Homo sapiens: one gene and its partner. The protein of the gene in region 1 interacts with the protein of each later gene in a biochemical or structural test. Each region holds a gene or a part of one and is shown on either strand. Other genes may lie near its edges.

Region 1 (3,812 bases):
TCTCATTACAACACTGAAACACAGACTGTGTGACCTCTGGTCTACAAATGCCCAGTTTCCTATTCTTTTCTCCAAAGCCTTATTATTCAATTGCTTGGAATCTATAAGAGGCTCTGGGTGCTTTCGCTAAGCTCTTTCTGTTTCTTTGTTTTGTTGTTGTTTATTTTTTGTAAATGATGACTTAAACTAGCTCAAGTTGGTCTGTTACTTGAAACACAAAGAAACTTACTTAAAACTTTACTATCATAAAAGCACAGATGAGAGAACGCACTGAAGGTAACTCTGGGTAGTATATCTCACTTTAAGTACCCAGTGAGTGACTACCACAATTTTAGCTGACAAACTGTAAAATATTTCTTCCATCCACTCCCCTATCCAAACACCAAACTACCAACTTAGGCCATATAAGTGGAACAGGAATTCTTACTCTAGAACTTCAGACTCTATTCATAATGCCTCTTTTAATGGATTTTCCACCCAGGTCCCTGATACATGCCAGGTCTTTCTCCACCCATTACAGATCAACATTTTTTTAATGTTGTCTGACCGTTGCTTGCTTTAATTCTCCAAATAACTGCAGGAACATCTTTGGCAGGTTCTGACAGATTCCGGGCCTTCCTTTCCATGCTGCCTACAGATCACTCATATTGACTTCTCACCTTCTCAGTGACAGCTACTTATACCATACCCTCTCTGTCCTCCCCAGAAAACACCTGATATATCCTGGTATAATGATATAATGCCAGAGAAAACAAAGTGCTTGCCAACCCACCACTCACCCAGGTTTCCAGTATGTTTATTATGATGGGAATGATAGCAAAGTCTAAAGCCCCTCGATTCTAAAGACATCCAGTCAATTGCTTGTAAATCTCTCAAATTTCTTTTCCTACTATAATTTCTCATGTCTGAGGAACAGCCCGGAAGCAAATTGCTTTTGGAAGTTTTCACAAAGATCTATTCAGCCCTTTTAGTGAGTTATCTAAATGTGGGGAGGGAAAGGCATTTTCAGCTGTGACGGCATGGGATGTTTTTCGTATGCTTGAGCAATTCAAAAAGGACTTTGTTTTCAAACTTGGCATGTATGAAGCCTTGGGTAAAGACCAGAGCCTTTGACAAATTTGAAGAAATGGATTTGGAAACAGTAAAAGAAAATGAGGGTAGCTAACTACCCTCTCCACCTCTGCTCTCTACATAGGTCATTTTCCTTACATCCAGAATGAGTTCTCAATAAATCACTCCTTTATATTGGCAGGTTTCCTTCTAACAAAGGCACACATTGGTTAATCTTCCACTAATACATTTTCCTTTGATCTGGAACATAGTACATCTCTGTCCACTAACCATAGTTGTGACCATAATCATTCATCTAATAAGTAAAACAGAACCATCCAAACCTGTGAGATGCTGCTGCCTGAGAAAATAATTCCACATCCCCCCAGAAAGGAGCAGCATGTCCTCACGACCAACAAGGAGTCATTCAACCAAGGTCAGAGAACAATGATGAACTCCGAGGATAGGAAATGACAGCTCTGCGTTCTACTTTAGTTACTGTGGTGTGTTGTAAGGTATCTCCTCTTCCTTAGAATCCCCCAAGATGGCTAAGGCCCCACCAGAGACAAGTGACTGAAGAAACATGTCACAATAAAGAGACTGAACTGTGAAAGAGAAAATACATTAAAGGAAGGGAAGAAGGGAAGAAGGAAGGTAGGTAGGAAGGAAGGAAGGAAGGAAGGAAGGAAGGACTGAATTTATTAATCTGGGTGGGGTGGAACTTAAAGAAAAAAAGATAATATAGCCACAAAAAAGAGGGTTTTCAATTTTAAATCATTAATTTTAATTTTTGAAGTGGTATGCCTCTATTTAACAAAACACACACAAACACACACACAAAATCATCAGATTGGCAGAGCTATTGTCTCTGACTTCTCCACTGGCTAGGGCCATTTGCCTTGAGACATTTATGTTTGTGGCTTTGGCTGTGCTTCTCAGAATCAGGACTGTTTTTTAGGTATCTGAGCATATGCCAACAGTCTGAAACATCTGTGTAAACAGATTTGAGAAACAGTGAAAACCCCATACCAAACATAAACAGAGTGGGCTTACCTGACGTGCCTGGCTGGCAGTTGCACTGGTAGCCATTGACCAGGTCAATGCAGCGACCATCGTTCAGGCAAGGGCTGCTGTAACATTCATCAATCTGGTCACTGCAGATGGCGCCCATGTACCCGGGATTGCAGATGCAGGTGTAGGAATCAATACCATCCTGACACTGACCATGGTGGCAAGGATCGGGGTCACAGTTGTCAATGTTCTCCTCACACAACACACCAGTGAAACCTTTGGAAAGAATTTTATCAAGGATTCTCAAAGACCAAGGCAGATATTCCACACCAGAACACAAGTGTAGCTACATCCATTTACTCTACACATTCGATGTGTGGTCAATTAATACTGCAGGTCTTGAGCAGTAGAAAACGACGATCTGCATTGATTTAGAAAGTATGCCTGGAGAGAGGTGCTTAAAATAAAGATTTCCAAATCAAATTTTAGAATTGAAATACCTTCGCAACTGATCAATAATTTCATTGCAGAGATGCTTTAACTGCACCTTCATTTCTTACTAGGCTTCAGGTATAACAGCTCAAAATATTTTTCCTTTATATATTTATCTTTGTATTTCTTTCTTCCCAAGTCCAATATACAGGTTAATGATTTCATGTATCTTATGTCCCCAATTCTGACTTTGGAGGTAAGAGAGCTTTATTTTACTTCTCTCAACTCCTCTGAGAGTAGTATGCATATATAGTAGTTTTAAATAAATACTGGTTGAATAAAATGAATGAACCTGTTATGAGAATTTAAAAGAAAAAGAGACAAGTAAGATTTCCTTTCTTCGAGGTGTAAATAGACAAACATTATATCTTTCCCTAAAAGACTCCAGGAGTCCTCCCCCCACTTTTAAACCTGAGCTAAAGGTTTTTAATCTCTTTGAAACTTATCCTCTACAAGAAGAATCTGGCCAGGGGAAGACAAAATCTGGATTCTCTGACAAGCATTAACTATTTGCAAAAAGAAAGAAAGTGGCTCATCTGAGTTGTCCTAAACTAAGTAGGTCTAATAATTAAAATATTAACTTTTTGTATTAATTTTCACAATTAAATTTGCTTTTCTGTGATCAGAAATAAATTATATGCATGATGCCTTTAATCTTTAAGACTCCATTCTCTAAAATTAATGTCTTGAATTACATAAATAACTTCTTTCTCAAGCAGTCAGATAATAAAGAAGTTCACTTCTAATAATTTCTAGCCTTTCTGTATAATATTTGCCTGTGTAAAAGGAAATGTGTAATAGGGAACATCTGGCTTACTGAAATCCAATCCCAAGTACAAAATGTGATTACAAACCCAGAAATGCAGAATATTTGTGCACAGATCGTTTTTGACTCTAGTTGCAGAAGTCAGCAAAGAGGACCCAAACTTTCCCAGTGAGAGCTCTCTCTCCTGTCATTTACACACTTGACTCTCAATCCTATTTTGGTGTCTTTTATGCAGAATACCCCTGCACTTGTACACATTCAGCCTTTAAATTTCTGGGCCTTCTTTCAGTCACTTGCTTCAAGAAACACAGAGCCAGGCCTCCTGCTGAGAAGCCCCAGTGAAAAATAGCTTTCAACTGGATTTCTTCTCTTTCCTAAATGAGTCAATCTAGCCAGCTGGAAACTTACTGCTGCCAAAATCTGTCCCAGAAAGACATGGATACCAAATGGAAATATCTGGGCCAGACCACTGTTGTGGTGGAGGAGGCAGGTG
Region 2 (3,812 bases), on another chromosome or scaffold:
GTGGGTCAGGCCGGGCTTGTAGGGAGAGGCTTAGCTGGGCCTGCAGGGGTGAAGCCCTTCCCCCTTGGCCTCCAGAGACTGGGCAGGGGCATAGCCCTGCTAGGCTGGCCTTGAGGGAGGGCCTGGGTTCCTCTCCCTGCTTGCCGGGGAACCTGGGCAGGTGATGGGTCTCTCACCTGTCCCCAGACCCCCAGCCCACACATCGCCTATTGCCCCTGCCAGCGCCAGGCCCACATCCCCACATGTCCCAGCCCCGTTCCTAGAAGGGCAACATGCCCGCCAACCCCCGCCCAATCCAGGCCCTATAGTCCCTCCTGTGTTCTAGGGGTTTGGTGTTGACAAAACCCTGTCCCAGATCGTGGCCCGCCAGGCAGGAAGGACAGGGGTGAGAGGTTGCTATTCGCAGAGGAGGCAACTGAGTCCTGGAAGGACAGGGGTGAGAGGTTGCTATTCGCAGAGGAGGCAACTGAGTCCTGGAAGGACAGGGATGAGAGGTTGCTATTCGCAGAGGAGGCAACTGAGTCCTGGAAGGACGGGGGTGAGAGGTTGTTATTCACAGAAGAGGCAAATAAGTCCTGGAGGCTGGCCCCTAGGGAAGAAGGGGAGCTGGGAGAGCTGGCAGGTGGGGTGAGGCAGGTACCGCCCCGTCAGCCAGCTCAGGTTCACTCTGGATGACTTCCTGCCATCCAGGTGTAGGGACCCCAGCTGGCGGGCGGTGAGGCCCTCTCGGCGGGCGGGCAGGCACACGTCCCTGCGGGAGCAGGTAACCGGAGCCCTGGGCTCAGGCGAAGGTGGCAGTAATCTTACCTGAGTGGCTGGCATGAGGTTTCCTGGGAGTCGAGAGGAACTCCCTGCTGGCCCTGAAGCCCAGGTGTGGCTGTGCCGGGAGACCGGGTGGCCTGGCTTTTCTCTGCCTGCCCCGTGGCCAGAGCTGCTCTCAGACCCATGCTGGCCCCATCCTCTGACCTCACTATTGCTGCTTCCTGGTCCTGCTGGTTCCTGTCCAGCGGCTACAGTGACTGTTAAAGCCTGGTGGGTCCCAGTCCTCACTCAGACCCCCAACAACAGACCTCACTCAGACCCCCAACAACAGACCTCACTCAGACCCCCAACAACAGACCTCACTCAGACCCCCAACAGACCTCACTCAGACCCCCAACAGACCTCACTCGGACCCCCAACACCCGAACAGACCTCACTCAGACCCGCAACAGTCACCCACTTCGCTTAGCCTCAGGAAGGAAGTCCGTGGTGGGGTCTGGATCTGTGGTATGACCCCACTGTCCCCGTGGGCTATGCGTTCTCAGCCCCTGGGCCTTCTTGTGGGCTCTGCCATGCAGCTCCTTCACTTCCTCATGCCCTGCAGCCTCAATCTCAATGCCACCTGTTCAAAGCCTGGCCTGGCCTTTTTTTTTTTTTTTTGAGATGGAGTTTTGCCCTCGTTGCCCAGGCTGGAGTGCAATGGTGCGATCTCGGCTCGCTGCAACCTCGGCCTCCTGGGTTCAGGTGATTCTCCTGCCTCAGCCTCCAGAGTAGCTGGGACTACAGACACCTGCCACCATGGCTGGCTAATTTTTATATTTTTAGTAGAGATGAGGATTAACCGTGTTGACCAGACTAGTCTCGAACTCCTGACCTCAGGTGATCTGCCTGCCTCAGCCTCTTAAAGTGTTGGGATTACAGGCGTGAGCCACTGTGACCCGTTGGCCTGGCCTTATTGGAACAACAGCCCCTGCCCCCTGTTGCTTTCCCCGAGCCCCGCTGGCTATAGGTTGCCGTCCTTGGTGGCAGAGGCATGCCTGCTGTACACTTGATGTGAACGAAGGAAGGAAGGAACGAAGGAAGGAGCCAAATGCCAGACGCCTGGGAAGCGGCTGGGTGCTCCAGGTGTTACCGGGGGTGGGGAAGGGCTTGGCCAGGTGCAGCTGCGAGGGTGGTGCTCCAGGCAGATGGGTTGATAGGCTGGGGTGGGTGGGTGGGGGTGGGCAGGAGCCTTGGGAACCCCAAGGGTGCTCTGAGCTGAGAGGGCGTGGACAGAGTCCTGGTGGGGGTGTGGATGGAGCCCTGGGGGGTGTGGATGGAGCTGACGGGGGTGGTTTGTGGACAGAGCCCTTGGGGGGTGTGGACACAGTCCTGGGGGTGGTGTGGACAGAGTCCTGGGGGGTGTGGATGGAGCCCTGGGGGGGTATGGATGGAGCATGTTGGGGGGTGTGGATGGAGCTCTGGGGGGGTATGGATGGAGCCCTGGGGGGGTGTGGATGGAGCATGTTGGGGGGGGTGGACAGAGCTCTGGGGGGGGTGTGGACGGAGCCCTGTTGGGGGGTGTGGATGGAGCATGTTGGGGTGTGTGGATGGAGCATGTTGGGGGGTGTGGATGGAACTCGGGGGGTGTGGATGGAGCTCTGGGGGGTATGGATGGAGCCCTGGGGGGTGTGGATGGAGCATGTTGGGGGGTGTGGACAGAGCTCTGGGGGGGGGTGTGGACGGAGCATGTTGGGGTGTGTGGATGGAACTCTGGGGGGGTGTGGATGGAGCCCTGGGGGGGTGTGGATGGAGCTCTGGGGGGGTGTGGATGGAGCATGTTGCGGGGTGTGGATGGAGCCCTGGGGAGGTGATGGAGCCTGTTGGGGGGTGTGGATGGAACCCCGTTGGGGGATGTGGATTGAGTTCTTTGGGGGTGTGGATGGAGCTCTGGGGGGTGTAAACAGAGCTCGGCGGGGGGTGTGGACGGAGCCTTGGGAGGCATGTGGATGGAACTCTGGGGATTGTCTGGCGCCTGTAGGCAGAGGTTTGCGGGCCCTGGTGACCTCAGGGAGCCCTGGAGATGGGCGGGGACTGGGCCCCGTGGCCTGGCGGGGCCATGGCGGATGTGGGAAAACGGGTTTAAGGGGAGCTTAAGAGGTGGGATTGAGGGTCTGTTGTCAGCTCGACGTGGCTAGGGAGGGTTCTAGGAGCGGGTTGGGGATGGCCCCCCACTTCCATCCTGTGCTCCTACCTGGGTGAGCCTCCTCGGGCCGTCCCCGGGTGTTCTGCAGGCAGGGGCTCGGGGGCGGGGCCGGGGTTGCCCAGCTGTGAGTGAGGCCCAGGGTCAGCAGTCATGTTGGGCCCTAGTTGTCTGTATTTGAGGGACAGTCGGAGGTGTGGGGCGGGGGACTGGGTGGGGGTCCTGGAGGCTGGGCTGGGTGTGGCTGGTAGCACGTTGGTTAGGGGAGGGGCTGGACGTGGGAGTGCAGTCTTCTGAGACATCTTGGGAGGCCAGGCCTGTCCTTAGCTGGATGAGGCCGAGGCACTGGGACGTGCGTGGGGTGGGCGGCGGGTGAGGACCAGGGAAGGGCTGGCAGGCGTGGGGTTGGGCCTTGCTGGGGAAGTGTGGTTTTCCCCAGCTTAGCCAGGCCTTGGGGCTGGTTGGATGGGGTGTGCTGAGGGATGGAGTGAGCCTGGCCTGCCTGGACACTGCCCAACGCAGCATCCCCCCGGGGTGGGAAGCCAGCAGGCCCTGAGGTGACTCAGCCCCAGCCCCCTCCTCTGGGCCCCACCTGGAAGGAGCCAGGGCTGGGCTCAGGGGTCAAGAGCACACCAGGGGTAGACTGGGGGGTTCCTGGGCAGTGAGGGCTGAGAGGCTGTGGAATGTGGGTACCCAGTGCTGGGTAGTACAGGGCATGTCCCGGGGGTCCCACCTGTCTGAGCATGTCTGTGAGTGACGGTCTCCGTGGGCTGCACTAGGCGGAGCAGGGGGCCAGCCCTGTGGTCTCTTTGCTTGGCTGACAGCATCGCCTGTCGCCATGGCTGGGGTACAAGGGCCAGGTGGCCCG

Evidence for each region.
Region 2: the proteins of NOTCH2 (region 1) and JAG2 form a complex in vitro, tested with the Homo sapiens proteins (one study listed by BioGRID).

The regions. Positions count from the first base shown.
Region 1 is NC_000001.11:119,961,471-119,965,282, forward strand, and holds part of NOTCH2 (neurogenic locus notch homolog protein 2 isoform 1 preproprotein), read right to left. Parts: intron 2,338-3,812; coding exon 2,104-2,337; intron 1-2,103. UniProt on the Homo sapiens protein: Functions as a receptor for membrane-bound ligands Jagged-1 (JAG1), Jagged-2 (JAG2) and Delta-1 (DLL1) to regulate cell-fate determination.
Region 2 is NC_000014.9:105,158,474-105,162,285, reverse strand, and holds part of JAG2 (protein jagged-2 isoform a precursor), read left to right. Parts: intron 1-3,812. UniProt on the Homo sapiens protein: Putative Notch ligand involved in the mediation of Notch signaling. Involved in limb development.